5 separate regions of the Homo sapiens genome follow, and regions 1, 2, 4 and 5 are each reported to be linked to region 3. Evidence: microRNA targets listed by miRTarBase, many of them from high-throughput screens and not tested one by one. Region 3 holds a microRNA gene; each other region holds the end of a gene's coding sequence.

Region 1 (5,094 bases), not on the chromosome of region 3:
TGCTCAGGGTGGTCTCGAATTCCTGGACTCAAGCAGTCTGCCCACCTCAGACTCCCAAAGCGGTGGAATTAGAGGCGTGAGCCCCCATGCTTGGCCTTACCTTTCTACTTTTATAATTCTGTATGTTATTATTTTATGAACATGAAGAAACTTTAGTAAATGTACTTGTTTACATAGTTATGTGAATAGATTAGATAAACATAAAAGGAGGAGACATACAATGGGGGAAGAAGAAGAAGTCCCCTGTAAGATGTCACTGTCTGGGTTCCAGCCCTCCCTCAGATGTACTTTGGCTTCAATGATTGGCAACTTCTACAGGGGCCAGTCTTTTGAACTGGACAACCTTACAAGTATATGAGTATTATTTATAGGTAGTTGTTTACATATGAGTCGGGACCAAAGAGAACTGGATCCACGTGAAGTCCTGTGTGTGGCTGGTCCCTACCTGGGCAGTCTCATTTGCACCCATAGCCCCCATCTATGGACAGGCTGGGACAGAGGCAGATGGGTTAGATCACACATAACAATAGGGTCTATGTCATATCCCAAGTGAACTTGAGCCCTGTTTGGGCTCAGGAGATAGAAGACAAAATCTGTCTCCCACGTCTGCCATGGCATCAAGGGGGAAGAGTAGATGGTGCTTGAGAATGGTGTGAAATGGTTGCCATCTCAGGAGTAGATGGCCCGGCTCACTTCTGGTTATCTGTCACCCTGAGCCCATGAGCTGCCTTTTAGGGTACAGATTGCCTACTTGAGGACCTTGGCCGCTCTGTAAGCATCTGACTCATCTCAGAAATGTCAATTCTTAAACACTGTGGCAACAGGACCTAGAATGGCTGACGCATTAAGGTTTTCTTCTTGTGTCCTGTTCTATTATTGTTTTAAGACCTCAGTAACCATTTCAGCCTCTTTCCAGCAAACCCTTCTCCATAGTATTTCAGTCATGGAAGGATCATTTATGCAGGTAGTCATTCCAGGAGTTTTTGGTCTTTTCTGTCTCAAGGCATTGTGTGTTTTGTTCCGGGACTGGTTTGGGTGGGACAAAGTTAGAATTGCCTGAAGATCACACATTCAGACTGTTGTGTCTGTGGAGTTTTAGGAGTGGGGGGTGACCTTTCTGGTCTTTGCACTTCCATCCTCTCCCACTTCCATCTGGCATCCCACGCGTTGTCCCCTGCACTTCTGGAAGGCACAGGGTGCTGCTGCCTCCTGGTCTTTGCCTTTGCTGGGCCTTCTGTGCAGGACGCTCAGCCTCAGGGCTCAGAAGGTGCCAGTCCGGTCCCAGGTCCCTTGTCCCTTCCACAGAGGCCTTCCTAGAAGATGCATCTAGAGTGTCAGCCTTATCAGTGTTTAAGATTTTTCTTTTATTTTTAATTTTTTTGAGACAGAATCTCACTCTCTCGCCCAGGCTGGAGTGCAACGGTACGATCTTGGCTCAGTGCAACCTCCGCCTCCTGGGTTCAAGCGATTCTCGTGCCTCAGCCTCCGGAGTAGCTGGGATTGCAGGCACCCGCCACCACGCCTGGCTAATTTTTGTATTTTTAGTAGAGACGGGGTTTCACCATGTTGGTCAGGCTGGTCTCGAACTCCTGACCTCAGGTGATCCACCTTGGCCTCCGAAAGTGCTGGGATTACAGGCGTGAGCCACCAGCCAGGCCAAGCTATTCTTTTAAAGTAAGCTTCCTGACGACATGAAATAATTGGGGGTTTTGTTGTTTAGTTACATTAGGCTTTGCTATATCCCCAGGCCAAATAGCATGTGACACAGGACAGCCATAGTATAGTGTGTCACTCGTGGTTGGTGTCCTTTCATGCTTCTGCCCTGTCAAAGGTCCCTATTTGAAATGTGTTATAATACAAACAAGGAAGCACATTGTGTACAAAATACTTATGTATTTATGAATCCATGACCAAATTAAATATGAAACCTTATATAAAAAGAGGTGTGGTTTTTGTCTCCCGCCCCCCAACCTCCCCTCCTCCTGTGAATCAGCTCTGAGTGACAGGAAACCAGGGCTGTGCTCCTGCTGGGACTCCTTCCTTCCTCCCTCCCCTCTGTTTTCAGGCTTGGCCTCCTGGGGGTGTTTCCTGAATCCGACTCCCCAGAGTTTAAAGAGCTAGGTTCCTGGGGACTGGGATTCATACCTCCTTCCCCTCTCTCTCCTGCCTGCTCCTCCCTCTGGGGACAGGGACACCAATGTTGGCCTGGCTCACCCACAGCCTCCCAGGAGAGTTCTCTGGGCTGCCGGGTTGCATCTGGTTCCGACAGCTCTCGGGGAATGGGCGGTGGGTCCCTGAAGTTGGGGGGCCGGCCCTGTTTCTCAGGGAATCCCGTGGTCACTCTCCTATGGCTTCCTACAGCCCTGGGTCGACCTTCACTTTCTCTGCCCCGGCCTTCCCTGCATCCCCACCAGGGTACCCAGGTTGCTCAGCGCTTCAGGCACCTAGGAGACCTATTTCCCGTTCCCCTTGCCCTGGAGGACCCGCTCTCCCTTTCGTCCACAGCTTCCGGGAGGCCCAGGTGTGCCCCCACGCTGTCCATCTTCCCTAGAAGTGGAGGTGCTCCGGGTTCCCCCTTCGTCCCCCCAGCCCTGCCCATGGGCTTCTGGGCCTCACTTGGAGCCCTGGGCTGCGCTGAGCTGCAGGGAGGCCGAGCAGCCTGTAGAGGGCAGCATACGCGTGGCTTTCCAGCCAGCCGCCCTGGAGGCCGTGGAGGGGAGGCAGCCACAGTCCTGGAGGGGCCTGGGCCTGGACAACATGGCCGCCCCCAGGGTTAGAGCCGCTTGTCCTCCAGCCGCCTGGTCTCTCTTGATGAGGATTTAACCTCTGGTCATTAGGTCCTGCCTGCTACCTTTGTTTCAGGTTAGCTCAATCCCAGGCCTAACCAGCGTTTTCCTGGAGCCCACCCCAGGGCCAGGCCCTCTCAGCTAGAACATCTCTCTCAGGTAAGGCGACTCCTGAGCTCTGAGCCCACAGCCCCACTGCCTCCTGGCTCTGCCCCTCCTCCGTGGGACTCCATCTTTTACACCTAAAAAGAGTGTGGGTGGTGAAATCTGAGTCGGGGTTAGAAAACGGAAAGGGGCAATTGTGGCCCAGCTGCTGCCCCATGGGGGCTGGGAGCTAGTTTCAATCCCCCACATTCCTCCAGCCCCGCCCTCCTCCTCTCTAGACCAACTCTGCTTTTCCTCCTGCTCCATTCTCCCTCTTCTCCTTCCCCTTATCCCACCCCAGCAGTAATAAGGCTGTGTCCTGTGGCCTTTCACTACAGGTCAGTGCCCCTTTCCCTGACTTTTGGCCCCTATTGCAGCCCCGCAAAAACACCCACCATAAGCACTCTCTGAGGGTAAGGAAGGGAGCCTGCAGTCTCCAGATGGGCAAAAGCAAGAGTCTGGTGCCATTTAAGCCCCGAGACCAAACCCCTCTTTGCCGCCAGCCCGGGCCCCTCAATCACCAGCCCTCTAGAGGCCAGGCCCCTGTGTTGCCCTCGGAGCCAGCTGGCAGGGTCAGGGCCTCCGCAGTCAGAGAAGTGCCGAGTCCTTTCCTGAAAGGCATTGGAGTCGATTCTGCAACCTAAATCTTCACCTCCTCATCATGGGGGCCTCTGTTTATAGAAATGTGAGCTAGGCAGGGGCTTTTTCTGATTTTCATTCTTTGGAGGGATAGAGGACAGAGTGTTTGTTGATTTTTCGTTTCGGTTTCAGTTTGGTTGTCATTGGTTTTTGTTTTTTGCTAATTTTGCCCCACCCTATAAAAAGCAGTGCCACCCAGAGGCAGGGGAGGGCCCTGAGGAGCACGGGGTCGCCGTGCACTCATTCCTACTTCCTTCTCCACCTGTCCCAGCTGCTTCCTTTGGTTACCATCTCCAAATCTGAGGGTAAAGGAGGGGGTGAGGGAGAAGTTTCTTGTTGCACCAAGAGGCACTGCTTCCAGGCCTGGAGCTCTGAATGACCTGTGTCCCCATTCTCAGGTCTGTGCTAGCACAGCCCCCTGGGACGGAGGGACACTGGCAGGATACAGGCCTTTCCACGTCTGGCCTTTTGCAGCTGCACCCCAGGATGTAGAAGCCTTGAGTTGGGCTCTGAAGGCTCAATTTCTACCCTGACTTCTCCAGTGAGGGTGTGAGTAGGCTTCGTGTGGAAATGCCCACAAAACAAATGCAACACTCAAGTCCGTCGGTGGAAAGATATGGCCAACAGGGGCAGGACCCTCGAGGATCACTTCTGCTTGCTGGGAGTGGGGCTGCCTCCCTGGCCAGAGCAGCAACCAAGACACACAGAGAAGCCCTGGAGGCTGGGAGGCTTTCCCTTTGACTCTAGGGCTCTCAAACCCAGAGATAAAATGCCAGGGCTCTTCGCTCCTCCAAGCAGTTGTCTCCCGTCCTGCTTTGGGTCTGGGGACCTCTGCAGGTGGTTCCCGTTCTGCTCCACAGGGCTCAGCTCCTCTCTGGCTGAGCCACGGTGGCTGGTAAGAAGAGCTCCACCCTCTGGGTCCTGGTTACGTGGGCCCCCTGGTCCCTGTAAGGTGGATGGGGTGATGCGGAAGAGCAGAGGGGTGAAGGCGGATGGGGACAACAGCAGCAGGGTCAGAAGAGGGTGGCAGCATCTCAGACCACAGCCGAGGAGGAAGATGGGGATGAGGAGGAGGCTGCCGAGGAAGACGGGGAGGATGGACTGTTCCAGAAGAGCCAACGCCGTTTGGGCTGCCGCTTGAGGTGGAGGTAGTCCTCCTTCTCACGCTCCTTCCGTGCCCGCTGGTAATGATCTTCCTCCTTCAGGTACCACACAGGTGGCCACCGATGCTTCTCGAAATACTCCTGGTTTTCTGGAGCAGAGAGCAGGCAGCTTGGTTAGAAAGGAGGCAGAGGGACAAGAGGAACGTGGGACACCAGCCCTACCCCACCACAAGGCCTGCAGCAGGCCTCCAGCCCAGCCCCCAGCACATCCCCATGACCCACGGCACATGAGCCTCCGAGGCAAGCAAAGTTCCCAAAGAGCAGGGCTGAAAGTCAGCACTGGGGAAGGCCTTTCCAGCTGGGTTCCTTTCCAAAGACGGGCGATCTAGACAAGGGCTTCCTGTGCGTTGGGAATGAAACAG
Region 2 (5,105 bases), not on the chromosome of region 3:
TGGCTGCTCATGCTTCTTTGAGATTTTATTTCTTCTCCGGGTGGAGTTGTGGTGTCTTTTTTTTTTGAGACAGGGTCTCGCTCTGTCACCCAGGCTGTGGCAGTGCCACCATCATGGCTCACTGCAGCCTCAACCTCCTGGCTAAGGTGATCTCCACCTCAGCCTCCCAAGTAGCTGGGATGACATATGTGTGCCAGTATGCCTGGTTAACTTTAATTTTTTTGAGACAGAGTCTTGCTCTGTTGCTCAGGCTGGAGTGCAGTGGTGCAATCATGGCTCACTGCAACCTCACCTGCCCAAGTTGAAGTCATCCTCCCACCCCAGCCTCCTGAGTAGCTGGGACTACAGGTATGTGGCACCACACCTGGCTAATTTTGTTCTTAATTTTTTTTTTTTTTGGTAGAGATAGAATATTGCTATGTTGCCCAGGCTGGTCTCAAACTCCTGGGTTCAAGTGATCCTCCTGTCTTGGCCTCTCAAAGTGCTGGGATTATTGGTGTGAGCCTCCATGCCCGGCCTTAATTTTTTTTTTTTTCAAACATTCATTTGTAGAGAGGGTCTTGCTTTGCCCATGCTGGACTCGAACTCCTGGCTTCACACAATCCTCTTGCCTTGGCCTCTCAAAGTGCTGGGATTGCAGGCATGAGCCACCACACCTGGTGGAGTTGTGATTTTTGCTAAAGGGCAGAGTACATGCTTCAGATTGAACAGTGGGGAAGAGACAAGTGCATAAGATGCCTTAGAAGCTCCGAAGCTATAGTAATCAGATCTCTTAGTTATGTGAGAGAAACTCAATCTGAAACAGTTTAGATGAAAAGGGAGAATTCATTAGAAAGGTCATGTTACCATGGGAAAGGCAGAGGTCCAGCCAGACTGAATGGTAACAGAAACCAGGAACTTGAACATCACAGGGCTTTGCTTCATCTCCATTTGTACCCATTATCTCAGTTTGCATTTCTTTACTTGAGACTAAACAGAGTCACATCTCCCACCTTCATGGCCATAGAGGGACTGAGAGATGAACACTCAAAAAATGTTAATTATTATTAAGGCTTGACTTAAAAAAACTATAAGATCTATATATCATTCAGTGGGCTCAAGTATCTCTTAAAAAGTTGCCAGATTCTGAGCCATATAATGAAAGAAAAGTATTTACGAACATGTGTCTTACAAAGGACTTTAATACAGTATATATAAAGAACTTTTACAACTCAATAAGACAAACAATCCAATTAAAAGTGGGCAAAAGATTTGACAGCCACTTCACAGAAAATATACAACTGGCCAAAAAGTACCTTAAAAGATGCTTACCAGCATTAGTCACCCGGGGAAATGAAAATAAAACCACAATGAGATACCACTAGATTCCCATCAGAATGGCTGAAAACTGAGTGTTGGCAGTTGGAACTCTATACAACCCTGGTGGGAATATAAAAGGGTATAGCCCCTTTGGAAAACAAACAGTTTGGCAGTTACTTTATTAAACATAAATCTGCCATGCAACCCAACCATTTTACTGGTAGGTATTTACCCAAGAGAAAGGAAAACCTATGTCTACACAGTGGCTTGTACACAAATGTTCCTAACAGTTTTATTCACAGTAGCCCCAAACTGGAAACAATCCCAAGGTCCATCAACAGGTGAGTAGAAAAACAAATAATGGCATATTCACATAATGGGACACTACTCAGCAATAAAAGGAATAAGCTACTGATACACTGCAACCTGGTGAATTTCAAAGTCATTGTGTGTGAAAGAAACCATAAACAAAAAAGTACATGCTACACAATCCCATTTATATAAAATACTAAACACCACCACAAAGCAAACTAATATATGGTGACAAAGACAAATCAGCAGCGTGAGGGATGGACTGCAAAGGAACTTGAGGAATCTTTTGGGGGCGATGGAAGTGTTCTGCATGTTGATGGTGACAGTGGCTTCATGGCATATACATCTGTCAAAATAACCATTGAGTTGTAATTCTAAACAGATACAGTTTACTGTAACTTGATAAAGCTGAATTTAAAAAGCTGCCAGAGTATTCTGAAATCATGCCTTCTTTTCTCCCTCTGGACCAAGCACCCGCCCAAGCAAGCCAACTTTAACAAAATTATCTCATAGATTTTGGATTTTTTTTTTTTTTGCCATGTTAAAGTTGTATTAAGTTTCAATACAAAACATTCCAAAAAGTGAAAAGTGATCTATAATACCCAAGTTCTATGTTCAACTACCACTTAAACAAGGAAAACATTTTCTAATATCATTCTGTTTTACAACCAGTATAAACCCAGAAGAATCAAGATCTGATTCTTTTTCCACACGTCTGCTAGTTCAGTAAACTATTTATCAAACAGGTGTCTGGTCATTTTAACATACTCCTTGCTTTGAACAATATTCATTCATATTTGGTACAAACTCTATATCCTATATTTAGGATATCTAAATATTTTAAATATTTAGGATATCTTAAGAGCCAAAAGGTCCTCACAGAAGCTTTAACCCAAGTAATCATAAGAATATGGAAGGATTCGGCTAAGACAACTATGGAAGTGTAACAACCACATAAATTTGGTCATTACCCTTGTGGTCTGTGATTAGTAGTAGTCTGCCAAATGAGAGTTAAAAATGTTGTACTTACTATCCCTAGTTGCAAATGTTAAAACATGACAGTGCCATAATTACAACAAAAAAAATTAGAAGTTGAGTTAGTTCCTCTAATCCAACAACTCAAGTCTGTTTCCTTTGAGAACATTACACTATTGGCTCTAGTCTCCAAAGCAATAAACTAAAACTTGTTTCCAAGACGGGGAGGTAAAGCAGGCTTATAAAACAATACAGCAAAAGAAAGCCAAGTGGCCCAATTGTTTCCAGTGTGTTTGCCATCTTAGCATGGTTGTTACTTTCCAGATGTCACTCATAAGTTTTATTCTACAACTAAACTGTTTGTGGATAAGCCACCACAAAAAAATGTTTCACTTACTGACAAGACACTTCACCAGATAGAGCTACCACTTATATCCATCATTTTTATAATTCATCTTAAGTTCTAAATTGAAGAGTTGTCCCCATGACTTTAGCTAAACAAAATGAAACCCAAAGCTGTAAAATCTGTGTAAAGGACCACGAGAACCTCCTGACTACCTCCACTTACCAATTTCCTTAATTACTTCCCCTTTTCCATTTGGTCAATTACTTAAGTAACTACCACTCACTCCCTAGTTATGAGTGTTAATCAACACTGATGCCTTCCTGAGATCCACAGGAACCCTTGAAGGCAAAATCTATTGCCTGCACCAAACCAATTCTGACAGCACTGCTTATGCAACTGCACTGACTTACCAACAATCAGCCGCCTTCTGCTTCAACAACTCTTAGCATTTGATTTCTCTTACTGCCAGCGTTATCTACTGTGAATCAATCAGCACTCCACAAACATAATGAGCACAATCTTCAACCATCTTTGCTGTTTCACAGGCATTTGATGCTTTAAATCTGATGTGGAATGCTGATAGATTCACTTTTTAGAAGTCATAAGCCTTTAGGAAGTTGGAGATAAATTCATTGCTTATCTATTTTCTCCTTTGCAATCAAGCTGTTCCTTTAAAAGTGAGACATTAGAGTTGCAAAAATTTGAAAGAGTAAGAGCAAGCACCTTTGCAGCTTCATGGTTGGTTTTGGCCAAACTTTTTATTTAGTATTCCGTAGTTGTTTAGCACACACTTAAATGGTCTTATTGTGGGAGGGGAAAGGGGAGGTTCTTGCAGATTCCCAAGGAAATGTCAGAAAGGCAAAATGGCCAGCATTATCCATTTGCTTTTTTTGGGTTTACTGGGTGAATAGCACTTTCCTTACATAGGCATCTGATTTCAGGTTTTGCATACTGAGAACAGTGAGATTTCAGTTAGAAAACACCCTGAAATCTTATGAGTAGCATACTCCAACCACCCTCTAATAGCTAGCTTGTTTGTATAGGCAGAATGATTCATCTCTCCATTTTAGTTGGCTAGATGTTTTGTGGAAGATCTTAGAATTGCTTGCCTCATTTACTGGGAAAAACCAGATAGGAAGTGGTCTTTAGGGACACCTTTACTTGGAAAGTTACAACACTAGTACTACAAGGCTTAACACATTTAACATTTGCTTGTTGAAAAGCAATGTCATAAAGTCAAATAAAATTAAACATGTTTTACTTTTTTCCTCACAAGAACATAAAAATTACGGAAGGGACTTAACAGGGAATTTAAAAAAGGTAACACAATTTTTCCTTTTAGTAGTCCTTGGGTAGTTATGATAGAATAGTTTCCACTCTTTTTTTTGTTTCTTTGAACTGGGATTTTGGTCCAAAGTTTTGTTTGTTTCTAGTATCTGCTTCTGCCTCCCCCTCTATCAGATCGGCTTCCTCCAGGGCCAGCACCTCTTGGTGCTCCGCGGCTTGAACTGCTGTAGGAATCACGTGAAGAAGGGTACCCCCTTTCTACAGAAGGGGGAAGCCCTCTTTCTTGTCTGCCAACCCTGTCACAACTTGAGTAGAGATCACTTCGGCTGCTTGAGTAACTGTCTCGACTTCCACCATATCCATCACGTGAGCTGCTATAATCATCATAGCGACTGCTTCCACCATAAGATGGCGGGGGCCCTCGTGTAAGTGGAGCACTACGTGAGTTACCATAACTCTCATATGAATCTCTGTAGGAACCTCCACTTGGATGATCTGAATAGTCACGATCACGACCATATCCATCTCTATCGCCATAGCCTCTTGATGGATAGTCATCACGTGAACTGGAATGACCATAATCACGGTAAGTATAATCTCGTGGTGGTGGTGCATAATCTCTTGTATCACGAGAACTTGGGTAATCTCTGCTTGAATAGCTGTCTTTAGTAGAATACCCATCATCTCTTGGGGACAAATAAACATCTCTACGAGAGGGGAGCGGTTCCCTTCGAGGTGGACCTCCATAACTATCTCTTCCACGTGATAGAGGAGCTCTTCCTCCCATTCCACTGCTGCTGCGAACTAGTCCTGAAGGTGCAGATCTCTTAGGAGAAGGACCCCCACTTCTTGGTGGTGGTCCTCTTTTTACTGGGAGTGGTCCCCT
Region 3 (5,105 bases):
ATCTAACACTCCAAAGTCTACTCTGATTACAGGTCCTATCACTCCAGTTTTCCAATTACTCAGCACTCACCTTGTTCACATTAAAGCCTCTTTTTGGCCCAGACTGAGGCCACTCCTGACCTTACTTCCTTCCATGTCCAGGTTGGATTTTTTTTTTTAAATGAAGTCTCACTCTGTTACCCAGGCTGGAGTACAGTGGGTGGGATCTCGGCTCACTGCAACCTCCGCCTCCTGGGTTCAAGTGATTCTCCTGCCTCAGCCTCCTGAGTAGCTGGGATTACAGGCATGTGCCACCACACCTGGCTAATTTTTGCATTTTTAGTAGAGACAGGGTTTCACCATGTTGGTCAGGCTGGTCTCGAACTCCTGACCTCAGGTGACCTGCCCACCTTGGCCTTCCAAAGTGCTGTGATTACAGGTGTGGGCCACCGCGCCCGGCCTTAGTTTGGATTCTTAAATCCATTTCTGTGTAACTCGTCTCTTGCTAGCTGTCCACCCCTCAATCAATCAAGGCAACCAAATACTGCTAGTGACAATGCCCCAAAACCACTTCATATTTTCCTGAGCTTCTAACCCAGTTTCAAACTCATTTCTTACTTTGATATACCATAAGCTCTCCTGTTAATGGTCTCACTCCAGCGTTTTGGCCTGAATATTCCTTAGGGACTCTGGTTCATATTTAGCCCTCTAGTATTTCTGTTCCAGCAGCTTTTGTCTTCATATTCCTGTTCCTGGTCAGCTTCCTCCCCATCATCCACCTCTACAATTACAAATCTTCACCACCCTTGCCAAGTCCTCTTCCTTACTCCTATCCCTATCTCTGTGCTCCAGCAAAGAGGTAGTTCCACTTACCTAAGGCTAACCCTCCACCTGCATGTGTTCTAGAGCCATAAATTTCACCCTTCCAGCTTCACCTGCATCATCTTTCAAGATCATCTTCCATCTATTATCATCTCTCTCTTTCTCACATCTACAATGACTCCCTTCTCAATTCCTTCTGCCCCATGGTCTGCAAACACACTCAATTTTTTTCTCATGTTAAATGATTCACTGTAAGGCGCTGGATAAGTGGTTTTAACTTGTATTCTGGTTGTCACATCTACAATCAGAAAAGCTTCTCACAAAATAATGATTAAGTACAATAAATAAGATAAAGAAAATATGAACCTGGTGAGAGGTGAACAGGACGGTGGAGGATTACCTGTCAGTGCAGGTAAGGGGATAGCTGGAGTAAAGTTGAAAGGGGAAAACTTTAAATATCAGCCACAGGAGCAAACCTCAGACTGTGAGGATGAGGTTTCTGTTCAGACAATGAGCACTCTGGTCCAACCCAGGGAGCAATTAGCAGCAATTACAGTAGCAGCAACAGCCATGCAACATCAGCAAGTAGCTAAGACCAAAATGCAGGCATAGAAATGAAGTATTTCATAGAAAACAGAGTAGCAAATATGACATATGAGGCACTTGTGCTGCTACTCCCCCTTCTCCGACCCTCAGCAGACATCACTAAATAGTTATAAATGTCTTTCACACTGAGATAAGACCTGGTTTCAGAATCTTGTTATAAAACATAATCAGGGCAGGCATTATCAATCAATTGGAGATGGTACTTGAGATGAAGTGTATTTGCTATCATTGCACTACACAGAAAAGTCCTCAACAAAAGAATTAGAAGACAGGAATAAGCTTCAGGAGTAAGCATTCTGAAGAGAGCTTGGACGTTGTTGGCAACTGGCGGGGACAAGCTGAGCCCATGGAGATCACAGAGCAGGCGCCCAATTAATGTCTGTTGATGATTCATTTTTTCATTCAACAAACATTTAATGAGGCCTACAATGTGCACCGGATTAGGCACTGTGAATACAAAGATGAGTAAGGCACTGTCCTTGCCCTTAAGGAATTTAAAGTCTGGTAGACGAGAGCCATAGACACGGACAATGATAATACAACCTGCTAAGTGCTAGGACACTTAGCAGGTTGTATTATATCCATCCGAGTAGGATTTCTTCAGAGGAGCACCACTCCAGGTTGCTGCTGGATCCATGAAGTCCTCCCAGGCACCAGGGTCTGCTGTTGTTTTTGTCACGTGCTGGGTGTCCCAAGATCTAACAATAATAGCTGTAATTAATGTATAGAGTGCCTATGACAAACACTTTACAAATATCTTCATGGAAACTCTGAAAATTAATAGTTATATTAGAGGAAGAAACTGAAGTTCAACAAGTTTAAGTCACACAGCCAGCAAGCAGTTGAATTAGGTTTCAAATCCAGTTTTGACAAAGTCTAATGCATTTTTCTGTTTTCAGGATAACCTTTATGCAGGTGTAATACAACAACTTTTCAACAGCTTTCTATTTGGAACTAAAAGCAAAGGCAATAGATTAGTCACTAGATCATGGAGTGATTAATTTGGTTTCCCACTCTACCTGGCAGAGAAATAAAAGGTGAAATGACCTCACACTTACATACCATTGAAAACCTTCAAGTCAGTTACTGTTTTTCTTTCTCAACCCTAACATCGTCACTGATCATTCAAAATATAAGTACCTCTAGTCAAATCTCTTCTTTTAATACTTGTCATAGTCAACACCATTATCAGCAACAACAGTTGACACAGCATTTAGCTGTATATTCCAGGCCTGTTCTAAGCAATTTACATAATTAGTCCCTTTAAGTACTTTTTACCCCCATCATTGAAAATAAATATTATTCCTATTTTACATAAGAGAAAACAGAGTCCTGGGGAAGTGAAGAATCATGCTCAAGACCACATTGCTAAGTGTGAGAGCAGATTTGAGCCCAGGCTACCTGGTCCCAAGACCCAAACTCTCACTTTACATAGCTCTGCTGCACTGCTCAGGGCCTCCTTTCCCAACTCTTGATGGCAAGTTACACAAGGCCCCCTGAAAAACCCAGTCCTACTTACATAAAATCTCATCACTAACCATTCTGGTCATAGAAAGCCATTCTCTAAATCCCAAATATCAATACTCAGAGCCTTAATTGGAAAATTTCCCGAAGAACATTGAGTTTAGAATATACCTTTGCAAAAAGAGAAAATAAACACTCGATATGTTTAGGTTTTTAATTATTGAATTTTTTTTTTACTTGCAGATATAGTCATAAACGTTTTAAGATCCATAAGCAAACTAAAGCAATTATGCCAATAATGACTAAGGCCACTGCTTCCTCAATTGAGTCTTTGATATAAAAGCCTTCACTTTTGGTTAATTACAAAAAAAAAAAAAAAAAAAAAAAAAAAAACCGTGGGAGATATGTGACAGTGAGAGTAGGCCTGCTACTGATGAGAAGGACCAGCAACTTAGCAACACCATAAAATGTCTGCTGCAATTCAGGTGTCTAGGTGTCTCCCTGAGAATCAACATTTCATATACAGCTGTTCCCAGAAAACAATCTTGCACAATCTGTACAGTCAAGTTATGATCTAAAAGGAGTTAATTGCAACATTCATCCAAAGAATATGACAGTATTTTTCATCAAGGTCTTTTTCTATAAGTTTTTCTATAACTTTTCCTATAAGTTCTATTATGTCTATACAGTCATGTGCTGCCTAACAATGTTTAGGACAATGATGAACCTCATATATGACAGTTGTCCCACAGTTGTCCCACCACAAAATCATATCATATTTTTACTGTAGCTTTTCTATGTTTATATATGTTTAGGTACACAAATACTTACCATTCTGTTATAATTGCCTACAGTATTCAGTACAGTCATATGCTGTACAGGTTTGTAGCCTAGGTGTGTAATAGGCTATACCATTTAGAGAGGTTTGTGTTAATATACTCTATGAAGTTCACATGACAAAATCGCCTAACAATACACTTCTCAGAACATATCCCCATTGCTAAGCAATGCATGACTAAATTTTTATAACTTCCTAAGAGGTTATCCCCTCTTCGCCACTCCCACTCCTTTCAGCCCTACATCATTTCTCATCTTAGCCACCACAGTATCCTTCTAACTCATCTCCCTGTCCAGATTTGAAAACATTCCTGAACACACCCCACACTACTGCCAGTGATCATCTAAAAGCATCCCTTTCTGAAAACACTTATAATGAAATCCAAATCCCATGGCATACCATATAAAGTTCTATTCCTGGCCTACATTTCCAACCTAATTTAGAGAACTATTTGTAGTTCCCCAAACTCATCATACTACTTCCAATGTCCATGCTTTTGCTTGGAAAGCCTTTCCCTGTTTTTCACCTAGTCAAAAGGTGACTTTACTTCTTTAAAGACTCAACTCATATACCAGGTACTCTGAGCTCTGTCATCTCCAGACTCTGTAAAATGATTTCTCTTTGAACTCCAGAGTATCTTATACATACCTCCATTGTAGAGCATACCATATTGTTGTAATTATATGTGTACATAGATGTTGATCTCTCTCACTAGACTGAGAACTCCTTGAGGACGGGGATGGTGTCTAATTCATCTCCATATCCCCACTACCCAGCACAGTGCCTGGCAGCTCAAATGACAGCAGAGAGGAGAGATGCTGAATATGCAGGAGTGAGAATAAAGCAATGTTCTTGAGTAGTGGTACAATACAAATATGCTGAATGAATTGAAGCTATAGAAAAACATTTTGGGGCTCAATGTTGTAAAGAGGTCTCAAAAGAAGGGACAAGCTAACTCAAGGAGGAGTCCCCAGTTACCAAGTAAACTTACTCAGAAGTTAAAAGACCATTTGTTGGGTATGTTATCCAGGGACTTGAACTGGGGTTAGTTTAAAATAATCTATTTGGGATAGGAGACTTTTAAGGTCCTCCCATACTGGAGCTTCTAAATCTATGATCAGTGCCACAGTCAAGAGAGCCATCATTCTGAGAGCCTATGTCACAGAGTGAATGGTGACTCCCACAGTTGTGGACAAAGGCTAAAAACAGATCACAAACTTATAACTCATTTGGTTGGGTGTGGCGGTTGACACCTATAATCCCAGCACTTTCGGTGGCTGAGGTGGGCAGATCACTTGAGCCCAGGAGTTTAAGACCAGCCTGGACAACATGGCAAAACCCCATCTCTACGAAAAATACAAAAATTAGCCAGGCATGGTGACATGTGCCTGCAGTC
Region 4 (5,105 bases), not on the chromosome of region 3:
GGCCAAGAAAATCAAGATTTACCTGGTTTATGTGTTGACCAGCTATACACAGAGAATTCTAGATTTTTTTCTAAAAATTATTATCAAACCCCCAATTTCACCAGTAGAAAAAGAGATCTTAAGATTTCTGTGTTTTTTTTTCCAGCATAACTCAGTTACTTATGGCTGGGAGAAAATATGTAGGGAGATAATCTAATACCTAATTCGAAGGAAGAAAATATCTAATTCTAAGTCTTGAGTTCTTCTCATCAGACCATAGCAGGATTTAACATTTAACATTTTTCAGAAGCTTCTAATAGACTTCATTCAGTTTTTTGTCCACAGCAGTGGCATTTAAATTACTGTACTTTAAGACATGGAATTGCTGGAGGCTTGGAAACTTGAGTGCAATTTCCCTAGTACGACCTCCAAGGAGAATAGAGCAAAACAGTGGTAGGAAAAACTCTCAAAATTTTACCCAATTGTATGTTTTCTACATTGTCAGTATCTAGTTTTATATAGTTAATATGTACTTCTAAAATTTCTGACAGTGTTTGGTGTATAAAACAGACCAAGCTCAAGATGTAAAGAAGATTGAGAAATTCCACAGTCAACTAATGCGACTTATGGTAGCCAAGGAAGCCCGCAATGTTACCATGGAAACTGAGTGAATGGTTTGAAATGAAGACTTTGTCGTGTACTTAGGAAGTAAATATCTTTTGAATTAGAGAAAGTGTTGGGACAGAAAGTACTTTATGTAACTAAGTGGGCTGTTCAGAAGCTTAGAGGTCATTTTTTGTAATTTTCTTTTTAATTACTTTAGAGAGCTAGGGATGCAAATGTTTTCAGTTAGAAAGCCTTTATTTACTTTTGGAAATTGAACAAGAAATGCATCTGTCTTAGAAACTGGAGATTATTTGATGTTAGGTAAAACATGTAATTGTTTCTCTGGCAAATTTGTATCAGTAATTTGAAAATGAGATATTAGGAAAAACCAATTCTTCTTAAATTTAGTTCATCTTTCTTTAAAAGAACATTAAATGTAACCATTTTGTCAGATCCATGTATTTTGGAGCATAAAATGTATGCTGTTGTGACCAATAAATATAAAATATGGTAATTGGAATTAACTCCACACCATAGTATGCATTGTTATACATACTGTGTACCTAATTATGTATAGCAGTGTAGTCTCAATTATATCTGAAAGTAATTGTGACTAACAAGTATGCTTTGCCTTATTTCCACATTTAAACTACCTGTTAATATAAGGGATTTGTAGTATCAGCTTGTTGAGCAATGACTTTGAATCTAGTTTTCAGTGATCAGAAGCAGCAGTTATTTGAGTGTATGAATGGAATGATGATCACTGTGCTATAATGTACTGAAACCACCATATTACAGAAATATTTACTACATATTTTCCATCTGTAGTTTCTCAGAAGGGCTATGGATTAGTTTGAACTGTCAAATCCTTGCATACTTCTGTGACACCCCTGCCCATTTTCTGTCTTTAATTAACCAAGGTGTTAGGTGTGACTGTCACAACTGTTATGTTTTCCAGTAAACTAGAAGTACGATATTTGATAATTATATTTGTATTTCACCACCTAAATGTAATGTTGATTCCTCAAGAATGAAATGAAGGCACTACATTGAAATATGTTTTGTATAAATTTGTCATGTTGAACAGCATTTTAGCATGGTAAGTTCCCTTAGCTATATGAATTTTGGCATGTTTCAGAGAGATCAGTAAATAAAATATTAGATAAAATATATATTGTTTGTGTTGAAGTTTTTAACTTTTCAGAAATTGTTGATTTCTGAGCTGGGATATACTATATTCATTTAGTCCAAAATGAGCCTAGTAATGCTGAAAGCAAATTTTTTGTTTCTCAGTACTTTATATTATATGACTTTCTCTGCACTATATGTTAATAGCAAGTTTGTTTTCTTGAATTAGAAAAGTAACATCAAATAGTATAGGATTATTTTGGCTTTTTGTTTTTTTTTCCCCCAGAATTAATGGGATCACCATCAGGGGAGGGGAGAGGCTTGACCTTTTTCCCCCTTATTTAACACTACAGAGATGACCTGAAAAGGAGAGACTGGCATTTGGGTTCTTTGAGTCCTGGTAGCGTGTAACAGAGTGGTTAAGAACAGACATTCCAAGTCAGACTGCCTGGCTTTAAATCCTGGCTCCACTATTTCCTAACTCTGTGGTCTTAGACTAGATACTTTTCTAAGCCTTCATTTTCATCTCTGGAAATGGGGCCAACAATAGTACTTTGCTTGTAAGACTGTTAAGATTAAACATCATGATCCAAGGCTGGGCACAGTGGCTCATGCCTGTAATCCCAGCACTTTGCGAGGCTGAGGTGGGCGGTTCATTTGAGGCCAGGAGTTTGAAACCAGCCTGGCCAACAAGGTGAAACCCCATCTCTGCTACAAATACAAAAATGAGCTGGACACAGTGGCACACTGTTGGGGTGATCAGGCCCAACACCAGGCCATGGGGGCTACAAAGTCCAGCAGGGTCAAAGGAATGAGAAAAGACGAGTGCATAAAGTGGGCCAGGCACGGTAGCTCACGCCCGTAATCCCAGCGCTTTGGGAGGCCGAGGCGGGCGGATCACAAGGTCAGGAGGTTGAGACCATCCTAACACCGTGAAACCCCGTCTCTACTAAAAATACGAAAAAAATTAGTTGGGTGTGGTGGCGGGCGCCTGTAGACCCAGCTACTTGGGAGGCTGAGGCAGGAGAATGGTGTGAACCCGGGAGGCAGAGCTTGCAGTGAGCAGAGATCGCACCACTGCACTCCAGCCTGGGTGACAGAGTAAGACTGGGCCTCAAAAAAAAAAAAGTGCATAAAGTGGGTCCAGAGGGCCAGTGCCAGATTGGAGGCTGTGAAGGCCCCAAGCTCTGGGAGCCCACACTATTTATTGGTGATCAAACAAAGAAGCAGGTGGTAAGGACGTGAGGGTAAACAGGTGAGGGCGTGAGGATGTGGGGTAGAAAGGTAGTGGTACATAAGCGTAGCTGTGATGGTTTAGCATTTCGTTTGATGTATATAGAATATGCTCTGCTGCTTGAGTTAATGGAGGACATGTTTACAAGTAAGAAGCAAGGAACCAAGTCTGTGCACATTCCAGAGGCTACAAGGGGTCTTAGGCCCTGAGCCCTGGGTTCCATCCAAGCCACAAGGGGTTCTATGCCCTGGGCTTAGATTGTGGTGCGGCAGGGCAGCCTTCCACCCTTTGGCACAGAGCTTGGTGTTCCAAAGGCCACGAGGGGTTTTAGAACCTGGACCCCGGACATCTTTCAAGACTTACATTATGACAGACAAGCCAGTCCTGCCTCAGCTCTTCTACCAACATGTCTCCCTTTCCTTGTTTGCAAAACCGCCATAGTTATCATTGCTTGTTCTTGGCGGTGGCTTTCTCTCCAGAGGCAGCTTCCACATCTGCAGGCTGTATAAAGACAAACAACACAGATTAAAAGCACAATCATTATTGAAATCACAGAGCCTCCAAGTGTCTTGATCGATTTTAGCAGGTTAATAGCTGCTAATCCATCTGCAGCTCCTTCAAGCACTTCACTTCCTGGCATTAGTGTCAGATGTGCCTGAGAGGCTTGAAATACTTGTTCCTTCAGTTTTGCAATATCCAAAGATAAATTTCCAGTATGACCTTTTTGTTTGTTTGTTTGTTTTTTGAGGCGGAGTCTCGCTCTGTCGCCCAGGCTGGAGTGCAGTGGCGCGATCTCGGCTCACTGCAAGCTCCGCCTCCTGGGTTCACGCCATTCTCCTGCCTCAGCCTTCTGAGTAGCTGGGACTACAGGCGCCCGCCACCACGCCCGGCTAATTTTTTGTATTTTTTGTAGAGGCGGGGTTTCACTGTGTTAGCCAGGATGGTCTCGATCTCCTGACCTCGTGATCCGCCCACCTCGGCCTCCCAAAGTGCTGGGATTACAGGTGTGAGCCACCGTGCCCGGCTCCAGTATGACCTTTTAAATGTCTCAACTTTTTCCCACTCATGCTCTGTTTCATTATACAGATGAGGAGTAATGTAAAAATCAGAGGTATTTCAATCACAATGCATTCGAATTTTACTTTTTAAGCTTACAATAACGCTCTCCCAATCAAATCACTGTCTGATGGAGATCATTAATTTGGTTCTTTGATTTATTTGAGTTGGAGAGTTCCATAATTTTGTGGAATTCTTTTGCCACTTATTGACAAATTTAACACTTTGTACAGATGAATGTAGAGCCATTCATGTACAGCTATTGCAGTAGTAGTAGTAACAGCAACGAGGCCAATTATAGCAACTATGAGAGCAACTATAAATCTTTTTGAACGGGATAAAAGTTTTTTAAGGATTTCATTTACTGTATGAATGGATGGAGATGCCGCCCACGGTCTATTTAAAGACATAGGTATCCAGACTCCTTCCCTGGCTTTAATTATTAGGACAGTCTGATTTTTATTAAAGGTTGAACTAATACAGGTAAACAAATGACATGCGGGGCATGAAATAAAGTGTGTGTTTATATCAAGAGTAACATTTCCTATTGCTAGCAGAAAAGGTGGCCGGACACAACTTTGAATCCAAAAAGTCCTGTTGGAAAGAAAAGAAAGAGCATATTTATTTTTACCTCCTTCCCCTTTATACTTGTTATATTTACCCTCCCAAATTTGGATTGAACTTTGAGCCATAGCTAATTTCCATAATTCAGAATGTTCCTGTCCTATGGCAGGAGATACCATTTTTGGACTAGGGGCGACAATGCCAGTAGGACTCCATATGATAGGGACCTCAGCTTTTGTCCAAATATATTGTGTATTATTTAATTGCCAATGGTTCTATCAGTTTGTTACATTTGTTCTACAAGAAGGCCTTCTGGTGCAATTTTCTTTAAAGATCCCCTTAGGGGACTAATTAATGATGATTCCATAGGAATTATTTTATGGCACCTCAGCCTTAACTTGCTATACAATTTTCCCAAGTTCAAGCATCCCCACCTTTAAACTAAACTCTATTTTGTTTATATTTGAACTTATTCAGATGGAACCTCAGGGTTTTAGGATGGGAATGATTATATTTTAAACTGTGCCCTGAAATCATA
Region 5 (5,105 bases), not on the chromosome of region 3:
AGGTGTACAGAAAGAAATATGTCATCTACATCGAGCGGGTGCAGCGTGAGAAGGCCAACGGCACAACTGTCCACGTGGGCATTCACCCAAGCAAGGTATGGTCAAGGACTGAGTGGCAGTAGCAGCCATGGAGTGTGTCAATACTGTTCAAAGTTATTGGTGTTTTGGTACTCCCTGCACAGTTGGCTGAGGCAGGCCAGGTGGACTTGATTGATTCAGTAGCTTTGTGATATCATCAAGGATCCAGATTTTTCTTCTCTTCTCTTTTCTGTTTTGCCTTTCTTGGTGATGGCTGTGTCTTTTTTTTTTTTTTTTTTTTTTTGAGACGGATGCTCGCTCTGTCACCAGGCTGGAGTGCTGTGGTGCGATCTCGGCTCACTGCAACCTCCACCTCCTGGGTTCAAGCAATTCTCCTGCCTCAGCCTCCCAAGTAGCTGGGACTACAGGCACACACCACCACGCCCAGCTAATTTTTATATTTTTAATAGAGATGGGGTTTCACCATGTTGGCCAGGATGGTCTCGATCTCCTGACCTCGTGATCCGCCCGCCTCGGCTTTCCAAAGTGTTGGGATTACAGGTGTGAGCCATCATGGCCGGCCGATGGCTGTGTCTTTAAGCTGGTTGCAAGAGGCTTCCAAGTGTTCTAGGCATCACTTCCCCTACCACATAATATTCAGAGGAATAAGAGAGAATATATCTTCCTGTAGCCCTCATGCCTACCTAGTGGAACATGCTATTTTTCCTTTGTGTTCCTATTTTGTATTGTGTTACAGGGTCTGTTTTCCTTCCAGAGTTTCAGTTCCTTAAAAGCTGAATGGCTGAGGTCTTACTTAACTTATGATGTCTATATTGCTCAATAGCTGGTGGGGATGCAGAAATAAAGACCTGTTTTCTCACTCCCAACAGGTGGTTATCACCAGGCTAAAACTGGACAAGGATCGGAAAAAAATTCTTGAACGCAAAGCCAAGTCTCGACAAGTTGGAAAAGAGAAAGGCAAATATAAAGAAGAACTTATTGAGAAAATGCAGGAATAAATAGAACCTGTTGTGCAACCACGGTTTAACCGGAGATTTTGAGGCTAGGGTGTGTTTCTTTCGAACTTTTCGGAATGTCTGGAACATTTCATTTCCTGTTTTGTTACCTGTGCCTCTGTAAATCTACTTTTGCAATTTTAAGTAATAATTTTATGAATAAAAATGGGAAATGCTTCCTAATTCCACATAGTATTTGCATTGTTTTATAAATAAATTCCACTTACTATCAATTCCCCTTTGCCAGTCTTTTCCTATTTAATGTGTGGAACAGCAAAATCGCAGGGGTAGGGTTAAATGGCCCTCCTCTTGCCTGGACTCTTGTGCTGATGAAGTAGAAAGGGCAGGGCTCTAGTCTTATATAGACAGGCCTCATCATCTTGCCCAGGCTGGTCCTGAACTCCTAGGCTCAAATGATCCTCCTGCCTTGGCCTCTCAAAGTGTTGGGATTACAGGCGTGAGCTGCCATGCTCTGGTCCTTGACACAGGGATTTGCCCCACTCAGTAGCAGTTGTAATGTGCACTGTCACATCTCACGCCTGACAGATTGCTCTCTGGCCTCCTGACTTGGGCTTCCCCAGCTTTCTCTCCAAGTGCCAACTAAACCAAATCATGTGCAGCTCCCTGACCAGGCTTATCTTCCCAAAGTTTTGACTTTGCAATTGCCATTTTCATGTGACTAAAAAGCCCCTTTTCCTCTGGAACTAACTTGAGAAACTGGCAGCCTACAGGAAAGATTTAACTGAGATACTGTTTTTCACTATATTTTCCAACATTTAAAATGTGGGAGACTCCACAGAGAATCACCTGCTTCACCTGGCTCCACGGGGCTCTCCCTGTTTTGCAGTGTTAAGTGCAGCCAAGGGCTTGGCGGTTCCCTATCCCACCTGCTCTGCTCCCATACGCTTCTTGCCTGGCCTCCATTGGCCTCCGCATTAGACTCCTGGTCTAACTTTCAAGCAACTAAATCTTCAAGATTTAGTTCCTTTGGCCAGGCACAGTGACTCATGCCTGTAATCTCAGAACTTTGGGATACTCGTGGGAGGATGGCTTGAACCCAGAAGTGTAAGACCAGCCTGGTTACTGAGACCCCACCACTACAAAAAAAAAAAAAAATTAATTTTTTTAATTAGAAAAAAAGATTTAATTCCTTTGAGAGGTATGTAGTGAATAAAAATTTTTAGAAAATGTATCTCCAGGGCCACATCCAAAATCCTCTGTCCCTGTGGGAAAAAAAAAAAAAACTTTTTTTGAGATGGAGTCTCCATCTTGCTTAGGCTGGAGTGCGGTGGCGCTATCTCAGCTCACTGCAACCTCCGCCTCCCGGGTTCAAGTGAACCTCCTGCCTCAGCCTCTCAAGTAGCTGGGATTACAGGCCTGCGCCACCACGGGGTTTCCCCATGTTGGCCAGGTTGGTCTTGAACTCCTGACCTCAAGTGATCCGCCTGTCTCAGCCTCCCAAAGTGCTGCAATTAACAGGCATGAGCCACTGCACCTGTCCTAAAAAAAAACACAAAAAAATTTTTTTCAAGAGAGGGTCTTGTTCTGTCACCCAGGTTGGAGTGCAGTGGTGTGATCTCAGCTCACTGCAGCCTTGACAGCCCAGGCTCAAGTGATCCTCCCACCTCAGCCTCCCAAGTAGCTGGGATTACAGGCATGTGCCACCACACCCAGCTAATATTTAAATTTTTTTGTAGAGATGGGAGTCTCAGTATGTTACCCAGGCTGGTCTCAAATTCCTGGCCTCAAGTGATTCTCCTGCCTTGGCCTCCCGAAGTGCTGGAATTAGACATGAGCCACCATGACTAGCCTAAAAAATAATAATGTATTGATTAAAATGTATCAAACAGCCTTTTATGACTTTCTAGTAATGGTTTATCTGACACACTGGAATTTCTTAATAAATGTTAATTGAATCAGTGTTGTTTCCCATTTTGACTGATGAAGAAAACAAGCTTAGGTTAACTGTCCAAATCACAGCATAAGAAATGAAGCCAAGATTTGAACCTGAGCCTGACTGCATCAAAAGGCCATTCACTTCCCACATTAGCCACTTATCTTTAGTCTTCCTTCCTTCACTCTTGTCAGCCTTTCACTGGAGTCTGATAAGAGACTGCATATTTATGTGGAACAGACAAGAACCTATGTGTTTGCAGCCGGTAGTGCTACTTAGGAAAGCATTATCACCAACTGTCCAGGTCTAATCCTAGCTCTGCCACTGGGCAGTCATCAGCCTTTGAGCAAGTTACTCATCTCTGGACTTCTAAACAGATGATAATACCTGCTCTGCCTTCTTATCTCATCGAAAATGCAAAGATAAAATGGCAAGATCAGATGGGCCGTTTCTGAGTACTCTTTGAAAGCTATGAGTATACAAATGTTAATTTCACTATCATTGTTCAGTTTACTTATATGTCCAATTCTGACATTCACTCTGCACTCAAAGAGGCAGTTATTTTTCAGAAAAGAAATCAGTGAGTTTGGCAGGGCGCAGTGGCTCACACCTGTAATCCCAGCACTTTGGGAGGCCAAGGTGGGTGGATCACCTGAGGTCAGTAGTTCGAGACCAGCCTGGCCAACATGGTGAAACCCCGTCTCTACTGAAAATACAAAAATTAGCTGGGTATGGTGGCGCACGCCTGAATCCCAGCTACTTAGGAGGCTGAGGCACGAGAATCGCTTGAACCCGGGAGGCGGAGGTTGCAGTGAGCCAAGATTGCACCACTGCACTGTAGCCTGGGAGACAGAGCGAGACTGCATCTCAAAAAAACAAAAAAAATCAGTGAGTTCAAAAACCACAAAACTCAAGATGTGTTCTCTGACTTGGCATTGATACACTGAACTCACTGATACAAGGTAGACAGATACTGTCCTGTCCCTGGAGTCAGACAGATTTGGGTTCAAATCCTGCTCTTGTTCTTGGGAGGTCATTTTTCTGATTCTCTGTTTTTCTATTTATGTAAAAAGCTGCCAGACACAGTGGCTCACGCTTGTAATCCCAGCACTTTGGGAGGCTGAGGTGGAAGGATCGCTGGAGCCCAGGAGTTTCAGACCAGCCTGCGTAACATAGTGAGACCCCATATCGACAAAATAATTTAAAAACTAGCCAGGTGTGGTGGCCCATGCCTGTAGTCCCAGCTACCCAGGAGGCTGAGGTGGGGAGGATTGTTTGAACTCAGAAGGTCAAGATTGCAGTGAGCCATGATGACATTGCACTCTAGCCCGGGCAACAGAGCGGAACCCTGCCTCAAAAATAACAAATAAATAAAAGAGTAGGTGCCCACCATACAGCAGCTGTATAATCATTAACATGCTGAGCTATGTATCTAATGAGTATAGTGAGTAGGTTAACTAGTAAATTCTGAAATTTATATTTTCTAATTTGATTCTTGTCTTTGTTCTCAACCAATACATATTTTAGGACTCTAAGAGTTGCATGAAAGTCAGATTTCATACTAAACTCACAGCTCCTTACTCTACAGTCTGTAACCTGGTCTGAGCTCCAGGCTCCAGCCATTACTTTCATTAGTAAATTTAAGTTATGATATCATCTAGGAATCAGACCTGGCTTGTTTTCAGCAACTTATTCCAAGAAAAATGACCAATAAGAGCTTTGAGAGCTGCAATCCCCCTGTAGGTATCCAAATCATACCACACTGCTTATACTGAGCCAGGTTGATAATAATAATGCATGATCAAGAGCAGGAACTAGGCCTCAAGTTGAGTTCTAATCTTAGCTCTGTCATTTCCTAGCTGTGTGACCTTGGGCAAACTGCTTAACCTCTCTGGGCCTCAGGTTTGTCATTTATAAAATGGAGATAAAATTAGTACTTACTTCATAGAGTTGTCAGACTTATTACTTGAGATACTGTGTGTAAAGCACAGAGTGCTCAGGAAGTTTTAGCTATTGTCTTAAAGGAGATTGGCAATGGAATTCGTTCACAGGAACATAGAGAAAAGTTTTTCTCCAGGGAGGTGAGACAAATACTGATTCTTGAAAAAAGGGAAGGGTTTAAGGGCAACAGTGATGTGTTTGGGCTGCTGCAGGAAATGAGGATTGGAGAATGCCAG

The links. The annotated mature microRNA hsa-miR-421 reads AUCAACAGACAUUAAUUGGGCGC and lies in region 3 at 1,772-1,794, opposite strand. An mRNA with a match to its seed (bases 2 to 7 or 8) in the 3' UTR can be bound and repressed. Matches are read on the target gene's strand: a 7mer-m8 pairs with bases 2 to 8, a 7mer-A1 pairs with bases 2 to 7 and ends in A, and an 8mer does both.
Region 1: the mRNA of RHOBTB2 is a reported target of hsa-miR-421. The part of its 3' UTR that is shown has no 7-base or 8-base seed match.
Region 2: the mRNA of RBMXL1 is a reported target of hsa-miR-421. Seed matches in the 3' UTR shown: 7mer-A1 at 3,364-3,370 and 7mer-m8 at 1,634-1,640.
Region 4: the mRNA of SRP9 is a reported target of hsa-miR-421. Seed matches in the 3' UTR shown: 7mer-A1 at 1,663-1,669.
Region 5: miRTarBase lists RPL26L1 as a target of hsa-miR-421. The part of its 3' UTR that is shown has no 7-base or 8-base seed match.

Annotation. Positions count from the first base shown.
Region 1 is chr8:23,016,979-23,022,072 of GRCh38, reverse strand. RHOBTB2 (Rho related BTB domain containing 2) reads right to left here. Exons shown (of 10, transcript NM_015178.3): 10 at 1,874-4,821. The coding sequence ends at 4,604. It overlaps TNFRSF10B (TNF receptor superfamily member 10b), which reads left to right. Exons shown (of 9, transcript NM_003842.5): 9 at 1-1,940. Among named protein-coding and RNA genes, the nearest start is that of RHOBTB2-AS1, 20 kb to the right of the region's middle. RefSeq lists enhancers at 2,016-2,175, 1,971-2,533, 2,534-3,098, 3,536-3,805 and a silencer at 3,394-3,561.
Region 2 is chr1:88,978,293-88,983,397 of GRCh38, forward strand. It overlaps RBMXL1 (RBMX like 1), which reads right to left. Exons shown (of 3, transcript NM_001162536.3): 3 at 1,164-5,105. The coding sequence ends at 4,362. The region is part of intron 2 of KYAT3 (kynurenine aminotransferase 3); the gene reads right to left. Among named protein-coding and RNA genes, the nearest start is that of KYAT3, 12 kb to the right of the region's middle.
Region 3 is chrX:74,216,621-74,221,725 of GRCh38, forward strand. It overlaps MIR421 (microRNA 421), which reads right to left and starts at 1,841; the gene lies at 1,757-1,841. All of the region lies in intron 5 of FTX (FTX transcript, XIST regulator), which reads right to left. MIR374B (microRNA 374b) reads right to left here and starts at 1,998; the gene lies at 1,927-1,998. It overlaps MIR374C (microRNA 374c), which reads left to right and starts at 1,929; the gene lies at 1,929-1,998.
Region 4 is chr1:225,788,710-225,793,814 of GRCh38, forward strand. SRP9 (signal recognition particle 9) reads left to right here. Exons shown (of 3, transcript NM_003133.6): 3 at 531-1,755. The coding sequence ends at 650. Among named protein-coding and RNA genes, the nearest start is that of SRP9, 13 kb to the left of the region's middle.
Region 5 is chr5:172,968,505-172,973,609 of GRCh38, forward strand. It overlaps RPL26L1 (ribosomal protein L26 like 1), which reads left to right. Exons shown (of 4, transcript NM_016093.4): 3 at 1-95; 4 at 909-1,267. The coding sequence ends at 1,037. Among named protein-coding and RNA genes, the nearest start is that of RPL26L1, 12 kb to the left of the region's middle.